Regions from separate parts of the Homo sapiens genome. Here region 2 is linked to region 1. Evidence: fine-mapped expression QTL. A gene starts in region 1. The other region holds a variant in brackets. All regions are shown on one strand. Distances are from middle to middle.

Region 1 (2,500 bases):
GGGACAAAAGATTGTTAGTTGACCAGACCGGGCGCGGTGGCTCACGCCTGCAATCCCAGTAGTTCGGAAGGACGAGGCGGGCGGATCACCAGAGGTCAGGAGCTCGAGACCAGTCTGGCCAACATGGTGAAACCACGTCTCTATTAAAAATACAAAAACTAGCCGGGCGTGGCAGCGGGCGCCTGTAATCCCAGCTACTTGGGAGGCTGAGACAGGAGAATCGCTTGAACCTGAGAGGCGGAGGTTGCAGTGAGTCGAGATCGCACCACTGTTCTCCAGCCTGGGTGACAGAGCGAGACTCCGTCTCCCCCCCCCCAAAAAGGTTGTTAGTTGAAAAAGCTAAGTAATTCTGTAAAAATGTCTACTTTCTCATTACAGTAAGATGTTTTCGCAGAGTTAACAGTGCTCTGGTGTAGATAACCAAGACTGCTTCTGTAAATTAGGCCTACTCCAGAGTACTTATTATCTGTGCTGGTATGTGAAGACGTGCAATTGTAGTTCACAGGAGAAACAACACTCCTCAGAGTTTCTTGAAAAACGGTGAGAAAGTTCTCACCCTCGGGGTAAAGCTAGCAAACACTGTGCAAATAAGGTACTGAAATATGCACACTTTTTGCCATTCAAGTAGTCCAACAAGCACAGCCTCCTCTTCTTTATCAAACACTCGGTATTGTCTCCCTCCCAACCTGTCAAAGCTCAATTCCAGGTTTATCCCGCAATAGTAACTTACCCGGACAATCTAACTTCCCCTGGGAGTAGCAGTCCTCAGGCCTGCTCCCTTCCCAGACCCCGCCGGCCACTCTCACGCCCACCCCTGGCGGTCGCAACCCCGCACCCGGGTAAACACGCGCCCCCGTCTCGGGAGCGGTTTCTCAGCGTCCTGGGAGCGACGGGTCCCGCCCCTCGGCGCCCGGAGCCCAAAGCCGGCCGGGCTGCCGTCGCGACTCCCTCGGGCCGCTCTCCCCGCCCCGAGCGCCACACCTCGCGCCCCTGCCCCAGGGACGGCGGCGCGCTCCAGCCCGCCCCTCGGAGCGCACAGAGACCGGCCAGTCCGGCGCCGCCGCGCCTCAGCCCCAGACGGACGACTGGCCCCTCCCCGCCCGGCGCCCCAGCGCCTCCCGCGGCGGCTTGGCCCCAGCCCCGGCGCCCCCACGCCTAAGAACAGCCCCTTCCTCTCCCGGACGCCCCGCGCCACACCGGACACAGCCTCGGCTCCACAGCCTCAGAGACACCAAGGGACACTCACCCCGGAGGCTCCTCCCGCCGCTGCTGCTGCCGCTGGGACCGCTGCCGTCGCCTCCGCCGCCGCCGCCACCAGCACCGCCGTCCGCACCGGCGCCAGCACCCCCGGCCATCCTCCTCCCACCGCCGCCGCCGCCGCCCTCTCCTCTCCTGTCAGTGGCTCAGGCTCCGGGACTGCTCCAGGTTCCCCTCGCCGCCATTTTGACTCCTAGACGGAGCAGGAGGGGCTCGGTTCGGCGTGGCCCTGGGGCGCCTGCGCGGCGCTGCGGAGCCGGCCGGAGCCCCCGCCCTCCCCTGCCGTCGTCCCGCTCAGGGTCACGTGGCCCGACGTCGCCGCGCGAGTCGGGCCGCGTGGGGGGGCGGTGCGTTCGCTGGATCCATGGGAGCGGAGTGCGCGCGCATTATTTTTGCTCGTCGGCTGGGAGCCGGGCGTCGGGTCGCTGGGAGTTTGCCTCTTGTGGCAGCATCCTGCTTAGTCCAGCGAATTGTGACACATTATTAAATGTATCAGAATATAAGAACTGTGTCACTACTACGTCACCAGATGGCCATTTCCACGAATTCATGTTTCCGTTCGGCGGCCGGCGTCCCTCGGGTGGTCGCATGCAATGAGTGCATCTTTCTCGAGAACAACTCTTCCGCGGAAAGTCATTGCTGACAGTCCTGGCATTCCGGTGGCTGCTTCTTGGCAGTGAGCACTTGTCTATCGTAAGCACTTGTCTGCATGGTACTTTTACAGGCACCACCTTGCTACTTGTGTAGTAGGTTAAAAAATAATCTTTAAGACACTGAAAAGTTTTCCTTAACAAGATACCCCTGTAAACAAAGGACAAAATTGATGAAAACACACAGTCGCCACGTGGGAGAGCCAAGTCGCTCTTCCCTAGATGCCCCTTGTTTGGGGGTTTGCAATAATTTCAGCGATGCAATAACAAAAATACTGTATTTATGGGGCACTGTCGTTTTCCAGAGAGATCCATGGTTTCATTTGAACGCCAAAGCCACCCTTTGTGGTAGTCAGGATAGGTGTTTTTATTGCTGTTTTACAACCAAGGAGACAGGCTCAGAAATACTAACAAGTAGGCAAGCCAAGATCAGAACCCAGGCATTCTGAACCCAGTGAGGAGGCACCGTTACACCTCCTTTTCCTCTGATAGACATTAGCAACTCTGGGAATTTATTTGAAAGTATTGTATTTGCATTTTCAATCTCTACCCATTGTTTAACAAGTTTTGTGTCACACAGTTTTTTGTTGTTG
Region 2 (2,500 bases), 95 kb before region 1:
AATGTTGATTTATTCAATTTTCTTGTTTAGATTTAAGAAGCTCACCCACAGAAACCTTAGATTTTATTTTATCTTTATACCCTTCTGTTAAACCTAAGATGGTTACAAACTATAAAGCAATAACTTGTTAGTAAGGCATGAAGAGTGAGATGCTAGGACAGAATTTGGCACTGAAATGATAAAAAACATTTTAAAGAGCTCGCTGGTTGCAGTGGCTCATGCCTATAATCCTAACATTTAGGGAGGCTGAGGTGGGAGCATCACTTGAGCCCAGGAGTTTGAGACCATCCTAGGTAACGTAGTGAGACCCCCTCCTCTGTCTCTACAAAAAATTTTAAAAATGAGCCAGGCATAGTGGTGTAACACTGACTGTAGCCCCAGCTACTCGGGAGGCTGAGGTGGGAGGATCATTTGAGCCTGGAAATTGAGGCTGTAGTGAGCTGTGATCACACCACTGCACTCCAGCCTGGGTGACAGAGCAAGACATTGTCTGAAAAATAAAAAACAAAATAAGAGCTCTTTTGTAGCAATTTTAAAAAATGGAAATTAGAAAACTTTCCATTTTGCGTTTTTTTTTTTTTTTTCCAGAATCCTAGACTCTAGACCATGATCTCATTTCCTTTTGAAATTGAAAATATTACTGAGCCTGGGTGTGAAAGCAAAGGCAAAGCTCAGAATCTAGGCCAGGTCTCTGACCCTCGAAGGGCCCTGAAGAGCAGGACACATCCAGGTGCCTGGTTCACGTGGGTGCCATGCTGAGCTTCCTGCAATCCTGAAGACCCCTGTGAGAGGAACTTTCCGCTCAAATTTGTAAAATAAAATTTCTCAGAAATGTCTCAATGAAATAATAGAAAATAATGAACTTGATGATTCAGAATAAAATGTGTGATTTCCGAGAAAACGATGATGATGATGATGATAAAATGCCTCTGAATGATTGAAATCCTAGAAACAGAGAAAATCAACCTAGAAAACCTCCCAATTCTACCCTCCAGGGGTGCAATGACTTCTATAATTGAAGACT[G/A]TATGCTCCACTGCTAAAACAGACTGTATCCAACTCAGCAGATTCTATACAAGCCATTTATTTGAAATGCCAACTATATGTAGGATAAAGTCAGTGTTACATGCTTATCAGTAACAGTAGAAAAATAGAAGCAGTGAAAACCTCTGTACAACTGTAATGGTACTCAAAAGAGAAATGTATCGTTTTACAATGCTTCACACAGACGAATTCAAGTTTGGAGGTACCTAAATAAAAATACTATATATTTCTTTAAAAATCACTATGTACAATTGAAGCGTAAACAAGTTTTACAAAGTACTGGTTATGCAGGTTGTAGAAAACACTTGCATAGGACATGAAATCAGTTTAAGAAAAATTTCTGAGCCTTTAGCATTGAAGGCACTTGACTTTATACCAGTAACAGCACAACCACAAGAAACGCAGTGTTGTAGATGATTTTCCACCTCTCTGAAGTACAGATGTGGTGCATACACAGCAAGGAGAGTTCAGGAACCTTTATCTCTCAGCCACCCCATCGAAGAGCAGGACTTGGTACCGCCTGCCCATGTAACCCAGATACAGTTACATGTAGGTACAGATGATGAAGCTTCCAGAGCTTATCTGATCTCTTAGACAGAACTCACATAAACACACAAATACAAGAGGTTATTTTCAAGACACACACTTGCAAGTAATCTTTCTATAGAAATGGCCACAGCATTATAATATTCAAAATATGGAAGATTGACAGTCTGAGGATTTTCTAGAGGAAAAAAAAATCAAAGGACTTGCCAAAAGGATAACTACATAACAGATATGACAATCTACAGGACAAAAAGACAACATGTCACCAAATATTGTTCATACAACAGCGTTAATGGAAAACAGTAAAACACCTTTTAGCAGTGTGCATGTTAAGTCTTTTAGTAAGATTATCTGTAATGAGGTTTGAAAGTAAATCACTTAGTAGACAAAGTAAACCACCACAGAACCAGGAATAGCACCCATCACTGCTGCTTTGTCACTCCAGAAAGCTGAAAGTCAACCGAACAATGAAAAAAAGTCAAAGAAGCATTTCCCTTTGAATTCAGTCCTAAAAATATGAATGCCTTATAATTAATTTCAAAATAAGTATCTTACAAGTGTTTCATGAAACATTGTTTTCCTAAAAGGCAAATTCAACATTATGAAAATATATATTTTGCCGGGTAGTTACTGAGAAATGTCAATCCTTTCAACTCTAGAGAATGATGCATGGAGGTCGGCTTTGAGCCCCACTGCCGCTGGCGCGTGTTTCCAATTTGCCTTCTGCATCGGCACCTTAATGCAGATGTACAAGGACTAAGCTCATTGCTAGAATGGCAACAACAAACCAAAACAAAAATCCAATGAAGGATGGCAGATGCAATAAAAAGTTTCTGAGGAAGCAAAAACAAGAATTAGTTAAGGCTTCATAAAGAATTCTATAAGAAGATTTAAATGTCAAGAATTCACTGA

Which allele goes with the higher level. Alleles are on the strand shown, and positions count from the first base shown. SD is a standard deviation of normalised expression in the study named.
For the expression in fibroblasts of the gene that starts at base 1,463 in region 1, G is the high allele of the variant in region 2 and A is the other (small effect, 0.24 SD a copy in GTEx).

What was found. PIP is the estimated chance that this variant, and not a neighbour inherited with it, causes the effect.
Region 2: its variant is the best candidate, but not a certain one, in a credible set for the expression of BTBD7 in fibroblasts (GTEx, PIP 0.53).

What each region holds. Positions count from the first base shown.
Region 1 is chr14:93,331,574-93,334,073 of GRCh38, forward strand. BTBD7 (BTB domain containing 7) reads right to left here and starts at 1,463. Exons shown (of 11, transcript NM_001002860.4): 1 at 1,247-1,463. It also overlaps a transcript of UNC79 not described here.
Region 2 is chr14:93,236,484-93,238,983 of GRCh38, forward strand. It overlaps BTBD7 (BTB domain containing 7), which reads right to left. Exons shown (of 11, transcript NM_001002860.4): 11 at 1,067-2,500. Among named protein-coding and RNA genes, the nearest start is that of UBR7, 30 kb to the left of the region's middle. The variant G/A (reference allele first, on the strand shown) is at 1,025.